Homo sapiens: one gene and its partners. The protein of the gene in region 1 interacts with the protein of each later gene in a biochemical or structural test. Each region holds a gene or a part of one and is shown on either strand. Other genes may lie near its edges.

What was found.
Region 2: the proteins of HOXD12 (region 1) and MAF form a complex in vitro, tested with the Homo sapiens proteins (one study listed by BioGRID).
Region 3: the proteins of HOXD12 (region 1) and MAFK form a complex in vitro, tested with the Homo sapiens proteins (one study listed by BioGRID).
Region 4: the proteins of HOXD12 (region 1) and MAFB form a complex in vitro, tested with the Homo sapiens proteins (one study listed by BioGRID).

Annotation. Positions count from the first base shown.
Region 1 is NC_000002.12:176,095,487-176,102,812, reverse strand, and holds HOXD12 (homeobox protein Hox-D12), read right to left. Parts: upstream 3,019-7,326; 5' UTR 3,012-3,018; coding exon 2,438-3,011; intron 2,292-2,437; coding exon 2,053-2,291; 3' UTR 324-2,052; downstream 1-323. UniProt on the Homo sapiens protein: Sequence-specific transcription factor which is part of a developmental regulatory system that provides cells with specific positional identities on the anterior-posterior axis.
Region 2 is NC_000016.10:79,597,722-79,605,222, reverse strand, and holds the start of MAF (transcription factor Maf), read left to right. Parts: upstream 1-4,485; 5' UTR 4,486-5,320; coding exon 5,321-6,438; coding exon of another isoform or gene 6,439-6,442; exon of another isoform or gene 6,443-7,501.
Region 3 is NC_000007.14:1,533,697-1,540,715, reverse strand, and holds part of MAFK (transcription factor MafK), read right to left. Parts: exon of another isoform or gene 5,836-7,019; intron 3,270-5,835; exon of another isoform or gene 2,259-3,269; intron 1,568-2,258; 5' UTR 1,524-1,567; coding exon 1,488-1,523; intron 776-1,487; coding exon 341-775; 3' UTR 1-340. UniProt on the Homo sapiens protein: Since they lack a putative transactivation domain, the small Mafs behave as transcriptional repressors when they dimerize among themselves.
Region 4 is NC_000020.11:40,686,220-40,694,217, forward strand, and holds the start of MAFB (transcription factor MafB), read right to left. Parts: upstream 3,018-7,998; 5' UTR 2,632-3,017; coding exon 1,660-2,631; 3' UTR 1-1,659.

The DNA of each region.
Region 1 (7,326 bases):
CCCGAATACCAGCAAGCTTTAAAATTTGAGAATTTAGGCTAAGTGTGGAAGTCCCAGCTTGCAACAAGCTGAGAGTCCCCTTAATGTGTGAGACACACTCAGATCTGCCATGGTCCTTCCCTTTTGGATATTCCAAACATATTTGGTTTGTAGGCTTTTACACACCATTTCCTGACTGCCTCGGAAGCCATTTTCTCATTTAACGAACAGTCAACACTCGCGGTGAAACAATAACCAGAAAAGAAAAACGAATTTGGTGGCCTGAAAAACATTAAGGTGGAATCCAAAACATTTTGAAAAATTGACTTCAGCTCCTTGACAGCTTGGCTCAGACCTGGATATTTATTTTCACTCAAAACATTTGTATATATTGTGTCTGATATATACAAGCTACTGTTTTTGACAAAATCAAAACAAAACATGCATGATAACTATTAGATAGCCTAGAAAATGAAATTAGTTTAAATATCAACTGAAGTCAGTTGGGCTAAGGCTCAGGGCTCTCTGTGAGGGGCCCACTCCAGATTTAGGGCCAGGTCCTGCACTGAAAAGAAATCACTGGACTTTGGGAAGGAATCCTGAATCCTTGAGTTGTTGTGCATCATGCTAGGAATTGCGAAGGAGGAGTGCTACATGTCAGAAGGAGAGGGGAGAAGAGGCAGGGATAGTGGAATGAGCTCGCAGGGGGAGGCTTGGTTCACTGAGATTAAGGCGGGACACTCCAGTACACCCAGAACAACTCCACCTGGCATTTGGGAACCCCTGCCTCCATGAGGCAAGCCTGGCAGGGCCCAGGGCCTTAAAGTCTCCACTGGGACAGGCCAGACATGCCTCAGAAGGGGCACAGTAGCTGGGCCTCTGGTAGAGTTGGCAGATGGTAGAGACGGTGAGAGGAACTTCTGGTCCTCTTTGCTTTGTCAAGAGCAGCTAGCGGGGCAGAGAATCTAAGAGACTTCCTTCCCCTCCCCTTGACTCTTGAGAAGGATTTTTGCCTATCCTTATGGGGTTCCATTAAGGTAATTGAAGAAAGAAAGATGCACCAACACCTTTACTCACCTCAACTGGAAAGCCATATTTACAGTTGGAGTGCAGCACCCCTCCTCCTCTTATTCACTCCCTTCTCCTCCCCTGGATATTTTTCCCTCTCCCTGTGCAACAGAGCTTCAAAGCAGACCAACAGCTCCTTTCACCAGAGCTAGCCTCTGGGGATCCAGTTACAGGGTTCATAGGCCTGGCCTAGGCATGTTTGAGAAGGTGGGAGTAGGGCAATGTTTGCCAGTCTTGTCTGGAGATGGCACTTGTCTGGAGTCCCAGTCTCTCTCATCCCATCTCAGGAAATGAAGGTTCCACATATTCTACCCAGCTGGAAATAGGCCAGCCTATTTCGCATTTCTCATTTCGAGATATCTCCAAGTTTACCCCACTACCCAGCCCCTCCCCTTCCCTCCCTTTTCCTCCCAAAGTCTGAAGATCTAGTGTGGCTTTTGTTCTCTCAAATCAGCCAGGGCAGACAGGAGGGTGGAGGGTGGATGGTGCCCTTTCCTTTCTCCAGAGTGAAGATCCTGGCCTTGCCACAAAGGGCTTCTGCTGCAGAGACCTAATTGTACCCACAGTCCTTTCCATTCCCTCAGGAGGCCTTCCACTCTGAGCCCTAACTAGGCGACTGCTATACGCTGAAGGGGCTGGAGAGAGGGGGAAAGGGAGAACGAATTGGGTGGAAACAGAAAAATCCAGGTACCGGGGAGCAAGAATGAGCGGTGGGTGCAAATGCCCCAGCCAGGAGCAAGGAGAGTTGGCCTCAGTCCCCCAACGTGGAAGCCTTAAGGCCAGCCAGAGTTGCACTGGTACTTCCGCACGTTTCTCACGGGCTTCTCAGGGACTGAGGAAAGCAAGGAGGCCCAACTGGCCTGGTCTGTAAATCTCTTGGTGGCTTCTGGGGCCAGCAGAGAAGGAACCGAAGGAAAAGCCTTAGCCTTAGCCCCAGATCCCCCTCCCCAAACAAGGCCTCTGTCCAAAAGGGCAGATCCAACCCGGCCCTGGCCACGCGCGCGGCTAGTAGAGCGCCAGCGCCTGCTCCCGAAGCACCACGCGCTTCTTCTTCATACGCCTGTTCTGGAACCAGATTTTGACTTGCTGGTCGCTGAGGTTCAGCCTATTGGACAATTCCTTGCGTTTCTGCCTGTTGATGAATTCGTTGACGAGGAATTCGTTCTCCAACTCCGCAATCTGCTGCTTCGTGTAGGGTTTCCGCTTCTTGCGGGCCCTCCCCGGGGCCGCCCCCCACGGCAGGCCTGCAACACAGCCCCAACCCACGTCAACCCAGCCCGTACTCTGTCTATTGCCCGCCCCCAGGCGGTTCACCTCCCCTTACACTCTCCCTTGAACCCCACCTCCCATCCCGGCCCAAACCGGCCCGGGGAGCATGGGCACCGTTTACCGTCGGGCAGTGAAGGTCGCAGGCAAGAGGCAACGCCCGCCGCCTGCACTGTCATGTTCAAGTTGAGCGGGCCCTTGGTGTCGTCCTTGAAGCCAGGGGCGCAGGGAGCCCCCTGGAGCAGGGTCGTGGAGCCCGGCGTGGCACGACCCACACCAGCGTAGTCATACTTGGCCGCTTTGAGAGCAGCCACTGCAGGAGCCAGGCTAGACTCGGGGGCGAAGGACGGCCGGGTACGACCGCGCTCCTCTGGCCCAGCGGCCGCTTCGGGCGCATAGAACTTAGCCTGCTCTTCGGGTCCGTCTTTGGCTGTTGGGGGCTGCAGGCCGAGAGGCCCGGAGCCAGCCAGGTAGGGCTGCGAGAAGCCGCCGAAGGCAGTGGCGCCCGCAGGCTGCGCGGGGGCGCAGGAGGCGGGCGTGGCGGCCCAGGGCAGCGCGCCGCGCGGGTAGGAGATAGGGGGAAGCGCGGCCAACTGGCCGCCATTCGGCCTCAGGTTGGAGAAGTAGAAAGAGTCTGGCGACTGCAGATTCAGAAGCGAGCCCACATAGCCCGCTCTGTAGAGACTGCGCTCACACATCTCCAACAAAGGGCTTCGGCTGCGCTCGCAACAGTATTTAGTTACAACCGGGAATAAGAGGACAGGCTCAGACGATTGGACGAAACTTTGCCTGCAGGTTCTTCAAAGCCGGTCATTTCAGCACCGCCTACATCCCCCCGACCCGTTTTCCCCCCCTTCAGAGTATTATGATAACACCCGCAATGTTCGATGGCGAAGGACGAGGCTGCCAGCAGAGCCAAATCAGGTTGAGCGAAGACTAACTGTCTGCGGGTTTCCAGGCCCGGCTTCAGCAGCTGGGGACATCGGGCAAGAGGGTGACTCTGCCCAAGTGTCCCCTGGGACTCTTCTTGGTCGTGATTGGCTTTGCGATTCGTTTTCCGCAGGCTTTCTGGGCCCGGCTTGCTTCTACCGGCTTTAAGTTGCAGCGGAGGCATTTTCCATTAACCGGCGCCTCTCGACTTATCCGGAGAGGGCGCGGTCCGGCGGCACCAGGAGCTCTGTCCCTTGGCCTGAGCAATGTCACTTTTACCCCAATCACTCCCACAGAGAGGGTTTCTCCAGAGACCTCTGCCTGAGGATCTGGCAGCAAAGACCCATTCGCTACTTGAGCCCTCAGTCCCAGGCCGCAGACACAAAAAGGGCATCACAAACTACCCAATTTTGGGATCCAGGAAGGAGGCCACACTATTTCTGGTTTGTGTCCCCATGGCTAAGAACTCTGATCATAGGGAAATTGCCATACAGGTCCATGGAGAATGTCCGCCAGGGAACCCATCAGCTCGATCCACCAATCGTGGCCAAAGGCTACATTCCTTTTATCTTCAGGAGTCCTCTCCAGGACTACACACTGCAAACCAGAACTCCGAGGTGTCCCCATCCACCAAGTGGAGGGCAAAGCAGGACGAACTCCCCCGACTGGGTGTGGAAAGGCAGAAGAGCCAGAACCACCTGGCCGGGGAACAGCGGGCGTTCGGAGGCAGCTGGCTAGCAGAGTTCCTTGCCTCAGCGCCCCCAGGGGTGCCGGGGATAGGGAGTTCACGGGTCTGACAAACAGGGAAGTGGGAAAGGCAGCAGTTCTTAGCCGGGAGCGGTGTGCTCAGACCCCGTCGCTGGCCCTCTTGCCTAGTCCGGCCAGAGGACTAGGGGTCCTCCCCTCCTGCCTCTGATCCCAAGACCCTGGGAGACCCGGTGACCGGCGCCAGTCTCAGCCTGCAGCAGGACCCTCGGTCTCCGAGCCAAGCTGGAATTGGTTAGATCGCGGGCTCCTGCACTGAGACCACACAGGCGCCGCCGGAGGGCAAGACTGACCGCCGCGCTGCCACTTTATTGTGTGAGTTATGGCGACCAATTGGGTGGCTCTGGGGAACGCAATCGGCCTCTTCCTCCTGCTCTGGTGGGGGGGAGAGAGGGAGTGAGGACGGGGGGGTGGGGATGTCTGGGGCTCCTCTGGCTCTGCCAGAGAGTTTCCTTAGGAGCCCAGGCATAGAGACTCACTCGCTCTCGTCCTCTCTTGGGAGGTGGGGGCAAGCACAAACTGCAATCCCAGTTCCTAGATACTCAAGGGAATACAAGCCTCAGATCCCTAAGAGCTCTTATTTTGGGGAACCCATCCTATTTTCGAGGAGCTGCAGCTTCGTTACTCCCGAAAGCTCCAGCTCCAGGGGTCCCTGCAGTCTCTCCTCACGTTTCAGTGCACGACGATTCCTCGTTATTTCCAAGCCGAGGGGTGTCTCTTTCGGACCTTTAGGCAGCCCTACAACAGCTGTTTGCGCCTCAGGACTAAAGGCATAAAAGAACTCAGTGAAAAACAGGAAAAACAAGAACAACTAGGTTCCCTCCATTGCTCCTTGGACAGTCTTCCCACTTCATCCCCCGGGTTTATGACTTTCGAGGTCTGGCAGGCAAAGTCTTATGCGAGCTGGGGAACCTGATCGAGGGAGGATCGGGGTGGAAAGTAGTGGCGGGAGAGTGGCTTGGCTGGTGATTAAGAGAATGGAACAGGATTTGGCTGAGGAGCGAATAGAGAGCTCTGCCAATGCCGCCCAATGCCCAGGAGATGGCGAGCGCGCTCCATGCCTATCGGGGCGCAGCCGCACGGTCAAGATCAACAGTGAAGGGCGGTGCGGCCTCCCTGGGGTCGCCAGCCCGCTTTCAGACGCAGCCTAGCGCCTCCGAAAGCCGGAGATCTTGGCGGCAAGGCCGCCCCTGACAGCGGAGCCAGAGGGACCCAGGGGGCTGCCAGAGGCGGGGAAGCACTGCAGTCGCCCCTTTGTCTGACCGTGAGTCCCGGCTCCAATGCTTCCTTCGCCTCTTGAATCACGCGACACGGGGACCTCGTTCCCCCACCCGCGGCGCTAAAAACCTGCCGGGTTTCTGAGGAGCTCTCCTGCCGCCTGTCTCCAACCGAAGGAAAGGCCTCTCTCCAAGCCCCCTTAGCCTTCCGGGTTCCCCGAGGGCCTCCCTCCCAGTGCCTGGGCCACTTACCAGTTCCTCTCCTCCCTCTGCAATTTGGAATATAAAGGGAATGCATATGAATAACAAAGCCTTCTTCTGTTATTGATTTAGCCCTCAATCCAAATTCCTCCAGAGAGCGTTTGAGCACAGTTTTAATCTTCAGCAAACCTACCATTTCTCCAAGGCGGGGGGAGGGGGGGAAGTGACATGCAAACTAGAGATGAAAGGAAAGCCTCGAGGCAATCTCCCCTACCCACGATGGGAAACCCGAGAAATAGACAGGGGAAATGGAGTGAAGCTCCGGAGTGTGGGACTCACAAAAAATGGAGGGGAAGTTGGCGATTAGGAGAAAGGAAAAATGTGCCCGTTTCTGATGAAAACACATCTTTTGAGAAAAACCACAAAAACGGTAACGACCCTTCCCGAAGTGTAAGGTGGGGGATGGTGTGGCCCCTTGTGCACGGGTTATTTCTTCTGCAAAGATTGAATCGCGATCATATCTCTCTCTGTTTCTCTGTCTCTGTCCCTCCCCCTCAAAATCGAAGTTAGCTGTCCACGGTCGCCAGTAAGATATGAAAGAAATCAAGCTGGGACAGGGAAAACGAAAGTAGCTCCAAGTCTTAGGTCTCTGCGTTTTCTCTCTCAAAGTCATGAGGGAGCCCTCCCACCAGGAGAGTTTTCACACTAAGTGAGGTTTTAAATATCACTATGTAACTAACTTACACACTAAAACTTTAGCAACCACTGAGTTGATTGTGTGGGGAGCTAACCATGAGGAGTCATCCAGTTCCTCATCGGCCATTTCCCTGAGTGGCAAAAAGGCCTCAAACAGAAAATTCTAGTGCCTAAAAATTGCGTCTGAAAGTTTAGGTTTTATGTTTTCAGTTGTCAACTGCTCTGTGCAGACTGCCCGGAGAAGGCGATATGGGATAAGCTTGAAATGTTTCTTTTTCGATTGCCAAATATGGGTATGTCTTTCTAATTTCAAGACCTTCCTAGTCCAGATGTTTATAATGGTCTTTCCAGGTTGAAAATTTTCAAGTGAGTAAGTTTTTCTATGCACAGGCATACAAATACATATGGATTAAAAAATAAATAGAACTATATAAATAAATTGACAATAGTGAAAGAAAAGTAAAATTTTATTGTCTTTTGAGCTGGCCTGGTATAAAATATCATTTTAAACACTGTAAATGATATCCTCATTTTAAAACATCACTACTTATGTTAAAGTCATGGGCAAAAGGGAGGGAGGGGGGCAAAAGTGGAGAGCATGAAGGTTCCAGAAACCAGAATTAGTGTTGAGTTTCCTTCATCTATAGAGAACATAATTGTGTTCAAGATACCAAGATTTTGTAATAAATAAGAATCGTTTCAAGAAGAAACACAAACTTGAAAAAATAAAACAAATGTATAAGGACTCAGAAGAAACAAAAGAGTTCTGTTTATTGGCATCTCCCTAGGAGTAAAAAGTGATTTTTAAATGTCTGAAGCACTGCCCATGTATCCCAGCTCACAGACATTGCATTTACAAAAATAATCTCTCAATTGTATAAATATGCAGCACTTTAAAAGTAATTATTTATCATCACTTTCAGAAACATCATTATTTTTCTTCTTGGACCTTGGAACTTCACATTTTTCATATTTGTTAGATGCTTTACAGCTCCATGCGAGGCCCCCTTGTTTAGACAGTCAAGTTCTTCATTGGGTTCTGTATGTAAGTTCCCACCCACGGCCACATTGATTCAGCCTCTTTTTGAGGATTGAGGAGATGACCACAATCCCAGACCCATAGATCCAAGGCCAAGAAAAGGAGGTGCATTTATGCCATCCGCGGGTCACTCTACTGATTGCAGCCATTTAAATGTCTGCATTG
Region 2 (7,501 bases), on another chromosome or scaffold:
ATGTGAGTTGTTCTCTAACTGCACTGGAGAATCAGAATTTATTGTACATATGTTTGTGTTCCACTTAATAAAAAAACCTATATTTTAAGATAAACTTTGTTAGTAATTCATGAGGTAAGTGACTATTTATGCTAATCAGGCAGAAATATATTCTCAAGCATAATGCATTACATAAATTTGAATGTAAAATGTTCAATTATGAAGTAAATACAGGTAATGCAAATAATAAATTACCTCTAATAAAAATTATAAAAGATGTGCCTTGAAAGAGAGAGCGGCTTTAACTTACAACTGTGAATTGCTTAAAGAGAAAAGAATTAATAAATGCTGAATTACTCTGATGATTATTTAGCACATAATTCACCTATTCATAACGACTCCTAGTAATCAGACTGTTGTTTCACATCCTCCAACATGAGGCAAGACTGTTTCCTCAGCAATTTTGCCCTTATCAGATTATCTCGTCTGATTCTATTAATTTTCTTCCATGAATCTGCTAACAGTGATTTGTGATTTACTTACCCTGCTAACTGAAGACTGTTAAAAGGATTTATCTAACACTGGACCTAAGAACAGTGTACGCCTTATCGTTCAGTTACTCTGAAGAACTCTTTCTCAAATCAATTTAGTTGGTTTCATAGTGAAATTTAGTGGACACTGGTTAGTTCTGCCCCATAAAATCAGCCCCTAAACAAAGAGTCCAGACACCATACCTGATGCATCCCATTCTATTCAGATTATGGATGTCTGATTCCAACATGATATATTTGAGTTGCTATAACTCACAATCGGGGAAAATATATTCCTTTAAGCTTTTAATCTTTGTAATTTGGACATGAACAGGGGTTTTGTTTTTCATTTTTGCATGAAGTCATTATGTATGTACTGACGTGAAACTATAATTGTGTTTCTGATGTTACTGTGTCACAATATTCTATGCGATGTAACCCATGTCCTCCTCCCCCTCACAAATCTCCTATAAATATTCATTGCTTTCAAAAACTTTAATACTACTGGTCCGAATTGGTCAATAATGACAAATGCATGGTTTCTAAATTACTGTATATTGTTCTACAGAGATTACTAGAGTATATATAGCAAGGGGATGTTAAGCAGTAAGAAAACACAGTTCACATTGTATTTGGATTAGATTGGCTTGGATAGAAGTGAAACAAACAATGTTAGCAAAGAAGTCTAAAGACATGTGGCCCACTGTAATTGTACAGAATCAAAAACCTGAATAGTACTCATTAAAATGAGAGAGCTCAATTGTTATAAAAGAAATGCTGCTAACAGAGAACTGTAAATGTTTAGACACCCCTGTGAATCACTAAATAATAATGTAAAAAGGATAAAAATGAGAATTAAGTTATAAGCCTGAGAGCATTACTGCTACACATCTAAAAAAATAATTCTGATCCTCTCTTTTTTTTTTCCAAGAGAAAATGGGCGACTATAAAAGACCTTGCAATAAGAGAAATAAAAATACCATGTCTTCACAGCAGTGTACATAAATAAACCATAAAAATGTGCAGATAATAATATATTTAGCTGCCCAAACATGGGCATTTAATTTCTAGAAATGATATATAACAATGTAACAATTAGATACTCAGCCATGAATGTGTATGGCACAGTCTTCATCATTAGCAAACTTTGTGTATAAAATATTATTTATTATTTATTATAATACTGCTTTCAGAGGCAATGATCATACCTTACAGCTTTTAACACAAATATGATGCAAAAGGATTAAAAGTATATCATAAACAAACAATAAATTCTTTCTAAATACACTTAAATTCATATTTTACATGAAAAATATAAACTTCCTACATTTGTGACTACTGACTTTTAAAAAGACCTAGAAAACTATTGTTACGGGCAATGTTAAATGACATAATGCTTATGTAATGGAAAGTGTGGATTTTCCTCTAAATAAACTATAATCCCTTAACTTCATTACTAGGGAAAATATTGTTAAAGAGAAGGAAAGCAAGGGAATTCTGCTAGGTTGCATAAATATTGACATAATCTTCACTCTTTCTTCCCCAAACTGGTAATAGACATAGTTTATTCCACCCAACAAAATGCTCTTATAAGACCAAAACTACCCTTATTAACAACTTCTCTGCAGTCACGATGAAAAGAAACACTACTTGTCTGAAAAATACCGACAGCGCTGCCCTTTTCAGATTAGGGTGTGCCTACGAATCTTTTGGGAAGTCTTCCATTAAGGATTCCTGGGTTTGCTGAAACTGAAGTCTACTAGGATCAGAGAAATTAACACAGGTCTAATATGGTGCAAGGAACGAGTGAGAGACACCTGAGGTTATAAATAGCAAAGCATGCTGCGGGGTGGGGAAGACCATTCTGAAGTGCAATGTTCAAGACGCTGGCTTAATATATGACTAAGTGTCAGAAGTCAGGTTTTCTGAGAATTACTTTCCAGATAAACAACTTTATAGCACTGCACTTAATCTTACTTACTAGAGACATCTCATTTATCACTGAATTACAAGTAACTTTAATCCTATTGATATTGCCATAAAGCCCGTTGAAAATCCATCCTGGCACTTTTAAAGGGTTTGGGGCCCTGTTACATGGGGATCCTCTTGCAAAGGTCTCAGCCAGAAATTACACCCCGAGGGTGTCTGTATCCCCTGGCCTCTTTGTCAACAATCAAGGAGAAGAGGAGGGGCAAAAATGATCTCTGCATCTGCCAGCACTTTCTTCGGCCCCTTTCCTATAGGGTCGGGTTCTCCCACTTCAGTCAAACTAACTTTGTGTGTCTCTTTCCTCCTCCCACACTGGGTAACCAGCTGCTTTTCACTTCATCGACAAAACTGGACACGGATCAATTTCAACTGACCTTTGCCGAAAGGTGGCGCTGTTGAGGTAAAAACCAACTCGCTCCAACAATAGTTTCCACTCTTCGATCCTTTTGCAGGCTTTTCAGAATTTTTTTTTTTTTTTAATGCACCCTCCTAGCGTCTCCCCCTTCTCATAAAGTAAAATAAATACGATTAAAAACACCAAATGCATTTCATTAATTGAAGGAATCAACAGTCCCAACTTCTAAGCAGACGGGCTGGTCTTCCAAAGGCTGGGTCGGTTTCAGGAGCTTTCTCTCCAAATAAATCTCTGCTTCTTCGACTTGCCTATCGCTTTAAAATCTTAGAAACAGAGTTAGTTGTTGGTTTCCTTCTTTTTTCTTTTTCTTTTTTATTTCTTTTTTGCATAAACTTTTAGAGAATCAATCTAGAAATTTGAACTACTTATTAGCATTTGCAACTGGGGGTGGGGGGAGCAGCCTCCCCCACCCCACCCCCCACTCTGCGTTTCCGGACTAGTTCCAGAAACCGCGGTTTAAAATTTAACCCTTCGAGGGTAGCTGGTGAGGGCTGGGGTATTGTTTTTCCCCCTTGCTCCCTGCCACGATCAAGTCCGAAATAATTAAAGGAAACGTAAAAGTGCAAAGGGCGCGCCTGACCCTGATAAACAGAGGTCAGATTTCGTAAGGGGACGGGTGAGTGTGAGTGTGTGTGTGTTTGTGTGTGTGTGTGTAAGAGAGAGAGAGAGCGAGCGCGCAATATGAGTCTCAAAGGCCAAACTCCGGCCAGTCAGGAGCCGGAAGGCTGAGCCCGGCTGACCTGACTTTGAGCTTCCCCGGAGTTATCTCGCATAGGCGCTCGCTCTGTCCAAGGGCACGCGACGCCAGCGGGCAGCCGGTCTCCGTGAAGAATGGCCTCTAAACAACTTATTTTACCTCGTTGTAAAGAGAGGGATAAAATGGGCTTTCCCTCTCCACGGATGCCCAGCCTTCTGGGCAGGCGCATGGCCGGGCGGCGCCCAGCCCGCAGCCCCGATCCGGACACCCCACTGCATCCCTCCCTTCCCGGTCCCTTCCCCGCACGGGCGCCCGAGAGACGGACAAAGAGTTGGGGCCAAGTTTGAGCGCCGGGCACGGCCAGGCTCAGGGAAGGAAGGTCCCCGGCAGACACCTGGGTACCAGAGTTGGTGCGAGGAGGAAAAGCTGGGAGGCGAATTCACAATCCTGGGGGTGGAGGGCAGGCAGGGGAGGGGAATCAGGCCAATCCCAGCCGAGTGAGCCCCCAGCGAGCTGGGGCTCCGGATGGGAGGCCTGTCTCGCGCTCCAAAGAAAAGCAAACCGCCCTCCCAGGTCCGCCCGGATTGCCGAAGCCCCTCTGGAAAAACTCCTTCCCCTCTTACACCAAACTTTGCGCCGGGCCTCGTTCCCTCCCGGGTAGGCAGCGGCGCAGGAAGGGTTAAGCCAGCCCGTCCCAGCTGACAGTCAGCTGATTGGGCCCTGATTGACAGCTCCGAAAAGTTTCCTTGTTTCTATACTATTATGCTAATCGCGGCCGCTCTCGCCGCCTCCCATTGGCCCGGAGTGCCAGTCAATTTCTCATTTGGACCTGACGTCACGAGTGCTATAAAACTCAGCAATTGCTTTAAACTCTTCTTGCTGGATCAGAGGCTTTAAAATCTTTTTTCATCTTCTAGCTGTAGCTCGGGCTGCTTGTCGGCTTGGCCTCCCCCTCCCCCCTTTGCTCTCTGCCTCGTCTTTCCCCAGGACTTCGCTATTTTGCTTTTTTAAAAAAAGGCAAGAAAGAACTAAACTCCCCCCTCCCTCTCCTCCAGTCGGGCTGCACCTCTGCCTTGCACTTTGCACAGAGGTAGAGAGCGCGCGAGGGAGAGAGAGGAAAGAAAAAAAATAATAAAGAGAGCCAAGCAGAAGAGGAGGCGAGAAGCATGAAGTGTTAACTCCCCCGTGCCAAGGCCCGCGCCGCCCGGACAGACGCCCGCCGCGCCTCCAGCCCCGAGCGGACGCCGCGCGCGCCCTGCCTGCAGCCCGGGCCGGCGAGGCGAGCCCTTCCTTATGCAAAGCGCGCAGCGGAGCGGCGAGCGGGGGACGCCGCGCACCGGGCCGGGCTCCTCCAGCTTCGCCGCCGCAGCCACCACCGCCGCCACCGCAGCTCGCGGAGGATCTTCCCGAGCCTGAAGCCGCCGGCTCGGCGCGCAAGGAGGCGAGCGAGCAAGGAGGGGCCGGGGCGAGCGAGGGAGCACATTGGCGTGAGCAGGGGGGAGGGAGGGCGGGCGCGGGGGGCGCGGGCAGGGCGGGGGGGTGTGTGTGTGAGCGCGCTCGGAGGTTTCGGGCCAGCCACCGCCGCGCAAGCTAGAAGCGCCCCAGCCCGGCAAGCTGGCTCACCCGCTGGCCACCCAGCACAGCCCGCTGGCCCCTCTCCTGCAGCCCATCTGGCGGAGCGGCGGCGGCGGCGGCGGCGGCGGCAGGAGAATGGCATCAGAACTGGCAATGAGCAACTCCGACCTGCCCACCAGTCCCCTGGCCATGGAATATGTTAATGACTTCGATCTGATGAAGTTTGAAGTGAAAAAGGAACCGGTGGAGACCGACCGCATCATCAGCCAGTGCGGCCGTCTCATCGCCGGGGGCTCGCTGTCCTCCACCCCCATGAGCACGCCGTGCAGCTCGGTGCCCCCTTCCCCCAGCTTCTCGGCGCCCAGCCCGGGCTCGGGCAGCGAGCAGAAGGCGCACCTGGAAGACTACTACTGGATGACCGGCTACCCGCAGCAGCTGAACCCCGAGGCGCTGGGCTTCAGCCCCGAGGACGCGGTCGAGGCGCTCATCAGCAACAGCCACCAGCTCCAGGGCGGCTTCGATGGCTACGCGCGCGGGGCGCAGCAGCTGGCCGCGGCGGCCGGGGCCGGTGCCGGCGCCTCCTTGGGCGGCAGCGGCGAGGAGATGGGCCCCGCCGCCGCCGTGGTGTCCGCCGTGATCGCCGCGGCCGCCGCGCAGAGCGGCGCGGGCCCGCACTACCACCACCACCACCACCACGCCGCCGGCCACCACCACCACCCGACGGCCGGCGCGCCCGGCGCCGCGGGCAGCGCGGCCGCCTCGGCCGGTGGCGCTGGGGGCGCGGGCGGCGGTGGCCCGGCCAGCGCTGGGGGCGGCGGCGGCGGCGGCGGCGGCGGAGGCGGCGGGGGCGCGGCGGGGGCGGGGGGCGCCCTGCACCCGCACCACGCCGCCGGCGGCCTGCACTTCGACGACCGCTTCTCCGACGAGCAGCTGGTGACCATGTCTGTGCGCGAGCTGAACCGGCAGCTGCGCGGGGTCAGCAAGGAGGAGGTGATCCGGCTGAAGCAGAAGAGGCGGACCCTGAAAAACCGCGGCTATGCCCAGTCCTGCCGCTTCAAGAGGGTGCAGCAGAGACACGTCCTGGAGTCGGAGAAGAACCAGCTGCTGCAGCAAGTCGACCACCTCAAGCAGGAGATCTCCAGGCTGGTGCGCGAGAGGGACGCGTACAAGGAGAAATACGAGAAGTTGGTGAGCAGCGGCTTCCGAGAAAACGGCTCGAGCAGCGACAACCCGTCCTCTCCCGAGTTTTTCATGTGAGTCTGACACGCGATTCCAGCTAGCCACCCTGATAAGTGCTCCGCGGGGGTCCGGCTCGGGTGTGGGCTTGCTAGTTCTAGAGCCATGCTCGCCACCACCTCACCACCCCCACCCCCACCGAGTTTGGCCCCCTTGGCCCCCTACACACACACAAACCCGCACGCACACACCACACACACACACACACACACACACACACCCCACACCCTGCTCGAGTTTGTGGTGGTGGTGGCTGTTTTAAACTGGGGAGGGAATGGGTGTCTGGCTCATGGATTGCCAATCTGAAATTCTCCATAACTTGCTAGCTTGTTTTTTTTTTTTTTTTACACCCCCCCGCCCCACCCCCGGACTTGCACAATGTTCAATGATCTCAGCAGAGTTCTTCATGTGAAACGTTGATCACCTTTGAAGCCTGCATCATTCACATATTTTTTCTTCTTCTTCCCCTTCAGTTCATGAACTGGTGTTCATTTTCTGTGTGTGTGTGTGTTTTATTTTGTTTGGATTTTTTTTTTTAATTTTACTTTTAGAGCTTGCTGTGTTGCCCACCTTTTTTCCAACCTCCACCCTCACTCCTTCTCAACCCATCTCTTCCGAGATGAAAGAAAAAAAAAAGCAAAGTTTTTTTTTCTTCTCCTGAGTTCTTCATGTGAGATTGAGCTTGCAAAGGAAAAAAAAATGTGAAATGTTATAGACTTGCAGCGTGCCGAGTTCCATCGGGTTTTTTTTTTAGCATTGTTATGCTAAAATAGAGAAAAAAATCCTCATGAACCTTCCACAATCAAGCCTGCATCAACCTTCTGGGTGTGACTTGTGAGTTTTGGCCTTGTGATGCCAAATCTGAGAGTTTAGTCTGCCATTAAAAAAACTCATTCTCATCTCATGCATTATTATGCTTGCTACTTTGTCTTAGCAACAATGAACTATAACTGTTTCAAAGACTTTATGGAAAAGAGACATTATATTAATAAAAAAAAAAAGCCTGCATGCTGGACATGTATGGTATAATTATTTTTTCCTTTTTTTTTCCTTTTGGCTTGGAAATGGACGTTCGAAGAC
Region 3 (7,019 bases), on another chromosome or scaffold:
GGCAGCCCCCACAGAGGACGCGGAACTTCCCGAGGGCCTTTCCATTATATGTCCCGACTCCCACGGGTGCAAGATACCAATTCCCACACACAGACACATCCTGCGGGGAGCAGGTGGCGGGCGTGAGTGTGTCTGTGGACCGGCGTGCAGCTCTGGGCCCACGGGAGCCCACTCTTCACCCTGCAATACAGTCTCTTCCTGGTGTGAGCTGCCTGCGCCCGAGGGGCCTGCGCTTGGACTCGGATGTCGAGAGTCTGCATCCCAGTGACAGGTACGAGGGGTGTGCCCCCACCCGCCTGCCCGCCGCCCGCCGCCCGCCACCCCCCGCCCCCGGCCGGCACTAGGATGCAGCCGAGAAGGGCACGGAGGTGGAGGAGAGCTCGGTGGACTTGACGATGGTGATGACGCTGGTGGTGGCCACCTTGGAGGGCGCCACAGGTCCCCGGGCCACGGTGCGCGCGAAGGTCTGCAGCGCCTCGTACTTGGAGCGCAGGGCGTCCAGCTCCAGCCGCATGCTGCTGTTCTCACGCGCCAGCTTCTCCACCTCCTGCTGCAGCTCCACGCGCTGCCGCTCCAGCTCCTCCTTCTGCGTCACCCGCTTGATGCGGCAGCTGGCCGCGTAGCCGCGGTTCTTGAGTGTGCGCCGACGCTGCTTCAGGCGGGTCACCTCCTCCTTGGTGAGACCCCGCAGGTGCTGGTTCAGCTCCCGCACCGACATGGACACCAGCTCATCATCGCTGAGCACCGGGGCGTTCTCGCCCGCCTCCTTCTTGACCTGGGGGGCCACAGTGCGGGGTCAGCGGCGGGAGAACGTGGGGTGTCTGCCTGGGACCGACACTGGGGTGGCCAGGAACCCAGCGGTGCCCCTGCACGCCTGCGCTCTCAGGGCTGGCCTTCGCCATCCGCACCAGGGACCACAGGACACTGTGCACGCAGGCAGCCCATGTGACAGCTGTGGCCCCACAGGACCCTTTCTGAACGGGAAAAGCCAGTGGTGACATCGGTCACTCCTGGTTACCGACAGCCTCAGAGCCCATGAGGACCCAGAGTGCATGGGTCCTGCTGCTGGGACTGAGCCGGCCCACAGGCACACGCCATTGTGGAGGCGGCAAGCGCCAGGCACAGGTGGGCTCGGGCCTTGGGAGCTGGAGCATCGCGTTCACCAGAGGCCACGCTGGCCACGCTGCCCACGCCTGGAGCCAGGGGATGAGCTCATGCAGTAGCGCCCGGCGGACACACAGCCCAGGCGGGAAGGCAGCAGACCCTGCCACGCCCTCAGCCTGGGAGTCATCGCCTGGAACCACAGTCCCCGATCCTGACTCCACCTCTCCTGTGAACATCCCTCGGCCACAGCAGCCCCCCTCCTCCTGGCAACAGGGAGGCCTCCATCACAGGCTCAGGACGGCCCTGGGATAGCAGGGGCTGTCGGGCCGGGGGCCTTTCCCACGCCTGTGCTTGAGACGGGGCCTGCTTGGAACCAGCCTTACCTTTAATGCCTTATTCGGTTTGGGATTAGTCGTCATAACCCGGGCACGGTCACCAGGACAGAGCTCCCTGGAACTCGTAGCTGGAAAACATGGACAAGCAGAGAAGCCAGCACAGGTCAGGGCCGGCAGCGCCGGACAGGGTGCCCACCTCCCATGCAGGGATGCTTCTCAGCCCGGGGTGGACAGTCACAGCACCATGAAAACAAGACGGGGCACCATCCGGGCCCAGCCCGTCCTGAGGGGCTTCCCAGGGGGTGAGGCATCCTGGCCCGGCCTCTGTCCCTGCCTGAGGGTTCAGGGAAAGGTCTGGCTGCACCTCACACTCTAGCACACTCCACAGAGCGGCTGGGACCCCACCCCAGGGCCTGGCAGCCAGGTGCGGCCCCCTGCTGCCCTGCAGACCTGGGCTGCAGCCGCCGGCACTGTGGGGTGACCAGCAGGCGCCGGCAGTGGCTGCTTCCTGTTCTGACTCTCCCTGAGGTCAGAGAAGACGTCTGCACCTGCACAGCACAAGGTGCCCCGTACCGAGGACCAAAGTGACTGGTGGCAAAACCTCCCTCCCTCAAGACAGCTGTGCCGGCCCCGAGGAGTGTGGGGCCCCGCTGGACAGCGACCCTACACTGGCAAAGGCTCCGGTGCTCCGGACCCAGCCTGGATCCCCGAGAGGGGGCCTCTGGGGAGCCCCTGACATCGCCATCCCCCACGGTGGGCCTGGGTGGAGGCCCAGCCGCCCTCCCGCCCCGCCCTCCCCACAGGCCACGGGACACCTACCACGGCCCTGGCCGCTGCGGCTGTGACATCACCACCTCCACCTAAGCTGCCCCCGAGCGAGGACCCTGCGGCCCAAGGGGGTGTGGGGTTCCTGAGGGGCGGCAGGTCCGGGGGCCGCAGCCAGAGACCAGGGAGGTGGGGGAGCCGCCGCCCTGCCGAGCATTTGACCGTCTGGCGGGAGTCGTCCCCGCCGCCGCCCCCGCCGTCCTCACGTCTGCATTGTGTCACACATTCTAATCATTCATGAAAAACCCAGCCAAAGCATCCCCGGCATGAGCCCTCCGATAGTTGCCATGGCGACCTTGGGACCGAGCCAGCCCCCACGGTTGTCATGGAAACCGAGAAGCCCAAACGCGATCCTGACTTCAGGTCAGGTTGCACAGACATCACGAGGCCGGCAGGCAGTCAACAAACCCATTTGCACCCGGCGGCCGGGACGGGCGGGCAGAAGGCGCCGGGCAGCTCGCGGGACAGGGGTTCACAGCACCCACTCCCATACCCCAAATACCAGACACAGGTTCCCACAGGAACATCAGAGCAGCACACGGCGGTGGGGGGTGTCCTTGGTCAGCACCTCCACTGGACATGGGCATCATGGGGGCGGGTGACCGCATCCCGTCCTCCCTGCCAGCCCAGGACCCTCCCCACACCCTGGGCCAGGGAGCCCTCGGGCCCAAATCCCTCCACCCTCCAGCCCTGCCTCCGATGGGGGCCCCACCCCCGCAACCCACAAACCCCCACAACAAGAGGGCCGCACAGGTGAGACAGGGTCCTGCGCCAGGCTGCCGAGTCCGCTGCCCCTGCCAAGGCCAGCTGATCTCAGGGCGCTGACGTAGATGGCACAGGATGGCACCAGCCGGTCCCGGGGACGGCCAGGTGGGCTCCAGGCTCCTTCGCACCACGTCCTGGGGTGAGGGTGACAGTGGAGAGGCTGGGGCCCAGCTGCCTCCGCCACCGTGGGGACCTGCAAATGCCGGCGGCTGGGAGCACCATGAGAAACTTTTCCATGTCAGAGGGAGGGGCCGCGGGCACCGCTTCCAGCTCCACTGCGAGCACGTCAGTGCACAGGCCGGCCACGACATAGCTATGCGGTGAGTCACCAGATGTTTACAGAGCCGCGCGCATTCCCACACACCCGGGCCTCCCACCCAGCAAGGACCCGCTCCTGGGCCCCCGGGCCCACTGCCCGCCGTGGCAGCACAGCCGGGCGGAAAAGGAAGGTCCGGGGGACAGGACCGTCTGGCCAGACCCACGGTGACGTGTGGGGCTCGGCCAGATGCCAGGGGCAGAGTTCAGCGTGGGGATCTTTCCACTAAAAAGATGCCTCCGCGATGCCCTGTGACACTGCGGAGGCACACGGTAGCCGGGGGCGCCCCAGGAGGGGTGGCTGACTACTTCCAGGAGGTCAAGGTTGCCAGGGCTACTGAAGCACGCCTGTGCCCCGCTCCAACCCCAGTACTTCGAGGCACACCTGCACTGGGGCCCTCTGAAGAATGAGGACCTGGCGGACGCAGGGCTCCCAGGCGGCCCCCACGCTGTGCTCGCAAGCCTGCCCCCCACCTCCTTGGGCAGGTCACGACTCTGCTCTGCCGAGGAAGCCTGGACCAGCCACGCGCCTGGAGAGACGACGCAGCGGGACGGCCCAGCCAAGCAGCAAAGCTTCTCTCAGGAACCCAGCACGGGATGGGATGGTGCTGGCGCCTCCCTCTCCCCACCATGCACAGAATAAATCCAAGTAGCCTTAACCTAATGTCGCTTTAAACATCAGAGGCAAGAAAGATGACAGCTTGCTTTTGGAAGGACATTCAGAGAAGAGTTTTGTATGCACAAAAAAAGTTTGTAAAGCAACTGATCTAAAAATGACGACTGCCCTAAATGGGGTTTTGTGAACTGTCCGACCTCACATGGCCTCCAGGGCCGCCAGAGCACATGTAGAAAGCGCTCCCACCCCAGGGCCAGAGACGCAGCCTTAGGGTGTCATCCAGGGGGAAAGCGTGCCTGGGGTCGCAGAGACGCCCGTGCACTACCCCGGGCCCAAGGCAGGGGCTACTGCATTAGCACCTGGTCAGCACTGCAGCCAAGCTCCCCTCCAGCAGCCCCCGAGGAACGACGTCCTCGCATTGTGTCTTACGCCCAGCAGCTAACAAAACACCAGCATCGCCACGCACAAGCACCCGACACCCCGAGCTCCTCTGAGTTTCGGTGGTCACCAGAGAAGTGCAGTGTTCAGCGCCACAGCGGGGGCCTGGGTGGGCGGGTCTGAGTTTCCGCTGTGGGGCCCCAGCAGCCGACGTAAGTAAGGGTGCAGCGCTCACGCCCCACGTCCCGGGAGCAGCGCCGGGCAGCAAAGTTCTCCGGCACCACCTATAACTTGGAACAGCTCTCAGGTAACTGGTTTTCGGATGGAAGAGGCAGGGTTTTCAACCCAAGGCCAGACACCTCGACGTGACGCAGAACTAAACAAGGCTCAGCGGGGGCATCACTTCCTCTCAAGGAAAAGGAACTGCCAGCAGCCTCAGACAGAGGCAATTCCTGCGGCTGCAGCTGGGGATGAGTGACGGAGCCAGGACGCCGGGCGCCCCTTTCCAGGATCCAGACTGAGGGCCTGGGCTCCATAAAGCGCAGGGCAGGGCGGCTCCGCCCAGGAAGGCACCTTGCAGAGGGTGAGGATCAGAGCCCTGGGCTCCCCCCGGCAGGGCAGGCAGCCCAGGGTCAGTCGTCCAGAACTGTGCTTTCAGGAGCAGGTGATCCCCAGGCAGCCACCTCAGCTTCTGGAGGATCATGTTTTCCCTTTTAATTTTCATTTTAGAGACAAGGTGTCACTCTGTCACCCAGGCTGGAGTGCAGTGGTGAAATCACAGCTCACTGCAGACCTCCTGAGCTCAAGCGATCCTCCTGCCTCAGCCTCCCGAGCAGCTGGGACTACGGGTGGGCACCCCCACACCCAGAGAATTTTAAACTTTTTTGTAGAGACAGGGTCTCACCATGTTGCCTAGGCTGGTCTCGAGCTCCTGGACTCAAGTGATCTTCCTGCCTCAGTCTCCCAAAGTGCTGGGATTACAGGTATGAGCCACCATGCCCGGCCATTTTTAACTTTTTAAGTCCCAGCAAATACTCACTGGTCACCCATGGGCCTGACCCTGCTCAGTGGGGGGCTGGCAGCCTTGGCACCTCTTGCTGTGCTGGCACAAGCTGAGAAGGACCTGCTTTGGGGTCCAGGAGGGAACATTTTCTCCACCAAGTTGGGACTGGGCACAGTGGCTCTTGCCTGTAATAGCAACGCCTCCGGAGGCCGAATGCTCGAGCCCAGTAGTTTCAGGCCAGCCTGGGCAACATAACAAGGCCCCATCTCTACAAAAAAAAAAAAAAAAAGAATTTTAAATAGCCAGTTGTGATGGCACATATGTGCCTATGGTCCCGGCTACTCGGGAGGCTGAGGTGGGAGGATTGCTTGAGCCTCGAAGTCGAGATTGCAGTGAGCTGTGATCACACCACTGCACTCCAGCAGCCTGAGTGACAGGGCAAGACCTTATCTTTTAGGAAAAAAAAAAAGAGAGAGTGCAAAAGTGAGTTGAGCAGCTGACGGCTGGATGACCCCTCTGAACGGTCCCGGCTGTGGATGCCCATAGAGAAACGGGGATTTCAGCTTTGGGGCTCTGATTCTTCCCAGATGAGAGGACGCATCGGGGCTGCCGCTCGCTCTACGAGGCCAGCATGGGGGCTCTGGATGGGTCACTTGTTCTTGCCCAAGGGGTGAATGATGACACAGACTCCATGCCCCACCCCCTCAGCTGCCCAGCCAGTCTGACCAAGACGGAGTGGCCCTTCCACTTCTATTCTCCGCGGGTCTCCGAGGATGTGGGATGCGGGAGAGGGAGGAGGGGCAGGAGGAAGACCAGGAACGGAGGACGGGAGCTCTGTGCGAGAGACACGGGTTCAGAAACCCAGCAGCACAGCAGCAAGCGCCCTCCCGCCCCCCGACCAGTGACTCCCACGGCAGGTGCAATCCACAAAACCAGAGGCCACCCAAGGTGTACCCGCCTCTCCCAGGAGCCTTTCTGCCAGAGACCCCAAGCCGGGTGCCCTCCACACTGGGCCGCAAGGGTAGGTGGGGCCGCTGTGGCACTGGTACCCAGTGGGTGCCTGTCAAACAGGTGTCAACCGACTAATTGCAGCCCAGCTGGTCCCAGAGACCAGCCAGACACCCTTCCTACTGAGGATGAGGTCCTACACTGCGAGGGCCCCCACTGTCCGGCTGTCCCGGACACAGCCCCACTAAGCATGCGGGAGGCACCCCACTTGGCACCCCGCAGCCCGGCCCATACCAGCCAGCAGCCTGGCCCTGGCTGGCTGCCCTCCAGCAAGCCATGACTGTCGGCCCGGCTTGGAGGACGTCTGGTCACCTTGCATTTGCAGTCTGAGGAAGCTGTGTCATTCCGCTACATCCAGAGGTGACTCAGGCAGCTGCAGCAGCAGAGAGCAGACTGCAGAACACACCACACCCCCTCCAGTCCCCGCCCTGGCTCCCACCACACCATCCTCCTGTCCTCGGCCTCCAGCTCCCCATCAGCATCCTGTTCTCCCCCGGCCGCCCTGGGGCTTCAATCCGCTCCCAGCCTCTAAGTCCAGTCAGGGGCATTCCGGGGGGCCCAGATGCCCCCCAGCCCCCAACCGCATCATTCACCGGAGTTGCCCCTGCCCCTCTCTCTTTTCCTCATCCACGCGCCAACCAGGCTTGATCCCAGCCCTCAAGCATCACCC
Region 4 (7,998 bases), on another chromosome or scaffold:
ACTTAAAAATACACTTTTATTTTGGTATTTTTGTCAGTGCAACTTAAATCCTTTTACTGACCTGCAGAAAAAAAAAAGTAATAATAAAGAAAAACACCCATATCTTCCCTATAACTACTATACAACTGAAGAATTGAAGGGGGGGGACACCACCAAGAACTCTTCCTACTATCTCAAAAGCAGGGAAAGAAACGCAATGCATTGGTCTAAAGAACGCACTTGAAAGTTGCAAAATTACTTGCCAATGTTTGGGTTTCTGGTACATTCTGAGCATAGCAGTTGGTTCAGTGCAGTGTCTGCTTACCAGTGCACTGCCAGGGTCAGGGATGGCTAAGCCTCTCACCCTAGGAGCGCTGTGGCTCCTACAATTAGCGCAGGCCCAGAGGGTTCAGAAGGGACCTCAGGGTGATTCTGGTTACAATAAAAAGCAGAGGGGAGGATCTGTTTTCCTTTCCTTTCCTTTCTTATTAAGGGTATCAATTTGACCATAAGACAAGGCTGTAGTCCAGAACACTCCTCTGGGGTGCGGAGCTTGGCAGCTTCCCTGCCCTGCCCTGCCCTTGTACTGGGACCTCTCGGTTCTCTCTCTCAGCACCAACAAGGTTGAAAACTAAAGCGAGAGAGGAAAAAGAGGACCGAATGGGGATAAGGGAAGGAAAGAAAACATGCAACTTCCAAGTGTGCCCCAAGACAAAGTTGTTTTCTGATGCAAAATGCCCGGAACTTTTTCTTTTTTTTTTTCTTTTTAACTTACAAACAAAAATACCGTAATAATAAACCCAAACAAAGACCCTCAGCTTGCTGCCACGTTCTCTATGCGGTTTGGCGGGGCGGGTATTTACAAGCCTACAGCTGGGACTGAAACCCCGCACGCAGCCGCCGGAGTTTCCAAACTGCGATCCCTTCTCACCCAAAGAAACAAGGGGAGTATGATCCATGATCAACAACATGCTAAAGTTAAACAAGAAAATGGTACAAAATAGAAATTATTACCATACATGTCCAGCATGCAGGATTAATATTTTTAATGCAGATTTTTTGTATTTTTCTATATAATCGAGCAGGCAATAAAACTGATGAGATTTGGGCGCCGAGCGTCCTAACTGAGGCCTGTGTCTCAGGGCTGAGAGCCAGTGTTCTCCGAACTCTGACAGACAGGTCCGTCTGTCCTTCCTTCTTTCGCTCAGCCTCGCCTCTCGCCTGCCGGGACGCCAGAGTCCCTCTCCTTTCCTCGTTGCTCTCTTCCTGGCGCGGACTACTCTCCGGGCAGCAAAGCAGCTGTCCCGGCTTAACGCGCAAAGTTCAGAAAGCCAGGAGTCTCCAGATGGCCTTGGTGACTTCTCGGGACTATGCCTCGCCGCCCTTCAGCCTGGAGAGAAGTTACTCCGGGACCTCCCACCCTCTCGTCTCTCTCTCCGGCTCTGCTCGAGTCTAGGAGGCGGCGCTGGCGTGCGCTACTCTCGCCTTAGCCAAGGTCCCCTGCCCGCCCGCGCACCCGCCCGTCGCCCGCGGCCCGCGCGCCCTTCCTCCCTCTCGCTCAAGTCAAACAGGTCAAGGCTGGGGCCGCGGCAGGGACAGGGTCCGGGGTAGTCTGGGACTAGGGACGTGGGACAGGGAGTCCGGGCCGGGGCAAGGGCGGGGGCCAGGACCGGCCACGACTCACAGAAAGAACTCGGGAGAGGAGGGGCTGTCGCTGGTGGAGCCCGCCTCCCTGAAGCCGGAGTTGGCGAGTTTCTCGCACTTGACCTTGTAGGCGTCTCTCTCGCGGGCCAGCCGGGACACCTCCTGCTTAAGCTGCTCCACCTGCTGAATGAGCTGCGTCTTCTCATTCTCCAGGTGGTGCTTCTGCTGGACGCGTTTATACCTGCAAGACTGGGCGTAGCCCCGGTTCTTCAGGGTCCGCCGCTTCTGCTTCAGGCGGATCACCTCGTCCTTGGTGAAGCCCCGCAGGTGGCGGTTCAGCTCGCGCACGGACATGGACACGAGCTGGTCGTCGGAGAAGCGGTCCTCCACGCTGCCGTTGCCGCCCGCCGCCGTCGCCGAGGCCGTCGCGTGCGGCCCGGGCCCGGGGTGGCTAGTGGGCAGCTGTTGCGCCGGGCTAGCGGCGCTGGACGGCGGCGGCGACGCTTGGTGATGATGGTGATGGTGCGGGTGAGCGTGCGGGCCCAGCTCGTCGTGGGCCACGCCGGCGCCCGGGTACGCGTGGTGCGGGTGAGGGTGGTGGTGATGGTGGTGGTGGTGAGCGCCGCGAAAGCTGTCGAAGCTTTGCAGCGGCTGTGGCACTGGGTGCGAGCCGATGAGCGCTTCCACCGCGTCCTCGGGCGTCAGGTTGAGCGCCTCGGGGTTCATCTGCTGGTAGTTGCTCGCCATCCAGTACAGATCCTCGAGGTGTGTCTTCTGTTCGGTCGGGCTGAAGCTGGGCGACGAGGGCACGGAGCTACACGGAGTGCTGAGCGGTGTGGAGGACACCGAGCCGGCTGGCTGCAGGCGTGTGCAGGGCCTGCCCGGACGCTCCGCGCGCCCCAGTGGCTCCTTCTTCACGTCGAACTTGAGCAGGTCGAAGTCGTTGACATACTCCATGGCCAGCGGGCTGGTGGGCAGCTCTGGCCCCATGCTCAGCTCCGCGGCCATCGCTGAAGCGAGGCGCAGCCGCCGCTGCCGCCCGGGAAACTTTGCGGCCGGCCGGAGCGCGCCGAGCCAAGCGCGGGGGGGAAGAGCGGAGAAGAGCTGGGGAGGCGGGGAGCGAGGGCGCAGCGGGCCGGGGCCGCCGGCCAAGCCTTTGTCTGGGGACGCGGCGGCGCGCCGGAGAGTCCCGAGGCTGCCTGCACCGCCCCAGAGCTCTGGGCTGTGCCCGCGCAGGGACCGGGCCGGGTAGAGTCGGGCGGGGTGGAGAGGCAAGCGGAGCGCGCGGTGGGGCTGAGGGGAGGCGTGGGGCGAGTGCCCGTTGCTCGCTCTCTAGCTCTCTTGCTCTTACGCTCTCTCGCTCGCAGCCGCTCGCAGCTCGGCGGTGCAGCTGTGCTGGATCCGGCGGCGCCGCAGCCTTTTATCGCCTCCTGATGTCACTGGGGTGCGGGGGCCCGGGCGGCCCGGTGCGCGGGCCAATAGCTGCACGGCCTCCGCGGCCCAGCGGCGCAGGGCGGGGCGCGCCTGACAGCTCCCCCGCCCCCCGCGTCAGCTGACTGGCGGCCCGAGCGGCCCCGGAGCGGCGGAGGCCTGGCGGAGCGCTGGAGCGGAGTGGGACGGCCAGCCTGGGCCCACCCCCGTACCCTGCAGGTCCCGGCCCACGCACGCTCGCCTGGAGTGCGCGCCCCACCTCTAGGCCAAATCACCGCTTTCCCCTCCTCGCGCACTCTCCTCCCTCAGTTCCCTTTGCACCCCACCCCCATCCCGTGTCACCCCCAAGGAGGCTCAGAATGAGCGCCGGGACAACGCCTCCTGGGCCCTTTGTTCCCAAGCGGCCCCCGCCCAGTGGGCGACGCTCTGTGTGTCCTCGCGGCTTCTGGCCGTGTGTGTCGTGCGTTCCTGTTTCTGGAGATCTGCGCGTATTTGTATGTTGGGGAGGGCGGGCTCGAGGCTCCGAGAGTTGTGTTCAGACCCAACTCTTAACCTCAGGGGACCTTTCTCAGGCCAAGCGAGGGCCCCTCCTGGCGGGTGCAGTCGCAGAGCCCTGAGGTTCGACTCCACTGGCCCCGCCGCTCCCCGCGTTCACCCCACCGCACAATGTTCACAGTGAAGGCGACGGGAAAAGCAGCAGCCCAAAGGCTCTGAATTCCTCTTCCCCGCCACACGCACGGAATCCTGAGCCCCCGGAGCCTCGGGGCCGAGGCCGGCCCGGGACGGTGCTCCGAGTAGCTCTCCACTGCTGGGGAGCCGGCCCTGTTTTTGTTTGAACGTTTTGTAACGATTAAGCAGATCCCGGCGTCAGCCCGCCGCGGAGAGGCTCAAACAGGCATAAAGTGCGACCCCAAGTGGCCACTGTGCGCAAAGGCGCCGCGACCGCCCGGCCCACGGCCGGAAGGCTTGGACGGCGCCTCGTACCCAGCCAGGTCTCCCCTACCTGGCCCAACCCAAGCCAGCCCAGAACGCATACTATGTGTGCACCAGAGCCCAGGACAGGTTCCCCTCGAGCGATGTACAGGTCCTCGGGTCCCGTCTTCGTACTCAGCCGCGAGCCTCGAGCCGCGAGCTCCGCTCTGGTCGCCCCGTTGAAATTCCGTGCCCCAGCGTTCGGGGGTGCCCGTCGGCTGCTCCCTGGGCCGGAAGGTCCTGGGCGGAGGAAGGCCGGTAGCCAAAAGTGGAAGCGCCACAGTGAAGCGGCCCAGGGCCACCGGGTGAGAAACCTCCCCGGAGGGCAGACGGGGAGACCGAAGCACACCGCACTAGGCATCCAGACTGGGCTTGGGAGCCGCGCACCCTCCCTACCCAGATCCAGGATGGCTAGAATTAACGGGTTCTTTCTGAGACCTCGGCTCAGGCGCCGAAACCGGATAGATCGCGAATTCGCTGGACCCGGAGACCCGACCCGCCTCCCGCGTCACCTTCTTCTTTCTAGCTTTGGGCGCGCGCAGCGAAAGGCAGGAGAGGCGCGCACTGGGTGAGTGAGTCCCGGCCGCTGTCTGCGCTGGACCAGCCCGACTGACCTCGCGCGTAGGGGTCGCGTGAGCCACACCGGTGCAGACGCGCCTAGATTATTTTTAAATGTTAGAAGGTAAAATATTTGCCTCCAATTAATCTGAAAACTCTCTATTCTCTTGCGCCCTCGGAGAGGCTGGGGTACGGCGTGGTATTGGGCCGCCTATTTTTAATAAAATGAGTGTATTTTAACTAAAACTTAACTCAATCTTGTGGGGTGGCAAATTAAATGCTGGAAGAGCGCGTCTACAACCCTCTTCGAGAAGCGTGCTCTCCGCAGAAATGAGTCGGCCGCCTGGAGAGAGAGCCTGGGCGGTGCCGCTGCGCAGCCCCTGCCAGTAGCTGGGGGTTGGGGACTCGCACCTTGTAAATGTCCTCGTCTTGTTTGAACGCAGTGAGAGCACACTCGTTTCCAGATCACTCGGGACCGGGTGTCTCGGATCTGTGCAGACTATGTATGGCTCCGGCCTCAGGCGGCCAGGGCGGGACAAGCACGCCTGACTCTCTTGGTCCCGACTGGACTAGAGCTGGTAGCACCCTCCCTCAGGGTCCTAAGAGACCTGTGGCTCCCAGAGTGTTTCTGCCACTGTGGACTTCTGCGCGGGCACCAAGATGGACAGGCCAAGCTGTGACCCACTCCACCCCCGCCCATACGTCCCCTCGGCTCTGCCTGACACTGGCCGTCGAAGACTTCCGTGGCCCATTAAGGCCCTGGGGATTCCTGAGGCCCCAGGTCTGCGGTTCCGAACCTCCTCTTCTCCTGCGGGCGGCCTGCCTCCGACTCAGGGTCTCTTGGACTCGGGCTTTGGGCAACCGCGCTCTTCTTTGTCCCTGTGCCTCTGTCTCTGTTGTGGTCACTCCCTTCGCCTGGGCTTTGACTGTGGTATCTCTGTCCATCCCCAGGCTCACTTCCCCACCCAAATCCGTTTCTCTGCCCCTCTCCCAGCTTAGCCACTCCCTCCTCTGCACACCCCACAACCTACCCCACCAAAAAAAAATGTTGGAAACAGCCCTACCCCTGCCAGGCTGTGGGTGAATGACGGAGACATGCAGGTGGCCGAGGAGTTAAGGCCGCTGCTGCGCAGCCGGCCCCACTTCGTGGCCTGGCCTCCCCCACCCCGGTTACTGCTGCGCTGACTTGGAGCCCCAGGCCCTATAGCCTCCAACTTCCGACTGCTGTCGCGGGATGCCGCTTCTCATCTCTGGGGTCTCTGGATCAGCATGCCAGGCTCGGCTCCCCGTCATGGATACACAGCAGTGCCCGCAGTCTTCACCCTATCCCTAAAACGTAGGCAGGGTTGAGGTGAGGAGGGTGAGGGATTGCTGCTGTATACCTATTGACTGGGAGTCCGACACGCTCAAAGAAAAAAAGTAAAAGAAGGAACGGTGGAAGAAGTGAAGGGTCGAGGAGAAGTAAAGGGAGGCCAGGAGACACGCGAGCAGTGCACGGAGTCCCAAGGCACACTGAAGGAAATGCACGGAGTCCCAAGGCACACTGAAGGAAAGTCGGGGATTTTGCGGCAGCCACAGCCCCTCTAGTGAACAGCTTGTTGCCAAAACTCCCATTTAAGGTGTTTACCCAAGAGTGACCTCCTCTCTACCCACGCCAGGTTGGGCCAGAGGCTATGCCTCTGGGACGCACCGCCTCGGGATTCTTTAGCTACAAATGGTGATGGAGGAAGCTCTGCAGGGTCCGAGCCGCTGCAGAGCCTTGGAGCATTCGGGGTAGGAGTAAGAGAAGAGGTTATTCCCTAAGGGAGCGTGGAGCCCACAGCCAGCCGCCAGGTGTGAGGTTTGCCGCGCTGCCCTCGTTGGCCCCCACTCAGCCGAGGGAATAACTCCAGAGAGGCCCGGCGGCGTGTCCTCCCGTACGCCTGGAAACCAGAGCGGCATTCCTGGCATCCTCATTCAGCCCGAAGGTGCGCCGTTCACCTTCGGCGTTATTTCCCTGAGGGTTGCAGGTGGTTGGTGAGCGAGGAGGCGTCTCTGTGCACGCATGGGTGCTGTTGGAGGCGTGCGGGAGGGGTGTGTTCGTGCGTGTGCTGTTTGCGCGCGCGTGTGTGTTGGTGGAGAGGCGCAGCAGCACGCGGGATGCGGGAGCGGGAAACTTCCAGCTTCAAAGCTCGGTGGGCTCCGGATCGTACTATGCGGAGTCGCTAAGCAGAGGCCAGTGGTCTCAAGGGCCTCAGAGGCAAGTTCTGCCAGGGAGGGTCCTGAATCAGGGGACCCCCACCTCCCGCCTGCCGCAGGAGCTTGACTTCTGCCTTTGCATCACCCAGATGTAGTGTCACCTGTCTTTTCCAAGGAGCCCTCAGGTCTCTGCCACCTTTTGTGAGGCTCAGTGGAAAAGTATTATGTTGCTCCCATTCCGTGGGATCCTCCCAAGGTCTATGGAACCCAAAAAGAGACAGGAGGGTTTTCTGGGGGATTTTTGTTTCTGTTTTTTGCCCTTACTCTTCCTTTTCCTCTTCCCAAAGGCAGCTATCACTTCCACTTTCCCTTGCCCCATACAACCGCTGTCAGATTCCAACCCAGTGCTTCTAAAAAGGTATTCTTGGGTTTCTGGGTCCTGGTGGTCTTTAGGCAACCAAAAGATTCAGAGGGTCCCAGTAGGGAGCCAGAGTTACACTGACTGTGAAGATCCTGGCTGTCTCTCCTGGGGACCAGGGACAACACCCCAATACATGCAGAAATGTGCACGCGAGCACACACACACACTTAGGGGTAGGAAATTATTATTAAAACTATTTCACTGTTTTTTTTTACTGTGTTCTAATGTGACCAATAAATAATTTTAAATTACACATGTGCCTCACATTCTATTTCTGATGGACAAGCCTGCATTAGATAACCACTGGGCAGTATTGCTTCCAACACAGATGGGATATTTGATAATAGTCACTCTCATTTGTACAGGGAGTTGCAAAGCCTTTTGTCATTCACCTTTTTGTTTTGTTGTTTTTGTTGTTGTTGTTGGTTTGTTTTATTTTATTTTTTGAGATGGAGTCTCACTCTGTTGCCCAGGCTGGAGCCTGGAGTGCAGTGGCGTAATCTCGGCTCACTGCAACCTCCACCTCCTGGGTTCAATCGATTCTCCTGCCTCAGCCTCCCAAGTAGCTGAGATTAAAGGCACACACCACCACATTCAGCTAATTTTTGTATTTTTAGTAGAGACGGGGTTTCACCATGTTGGCCAGGCTGGTCTCCAACTCCTGACCTCAGATGGTCCGCCCACCTCAGCCTCCATCATTCACCTTTTCACTCAACTCTTACAACTCTGTGAAGTAGTAACTATTATTATCCCTATTTTACAGAGATAGGTAAGCAGGGAGATAAGTGGGTGGATGCAGATATATCACAGTGTCT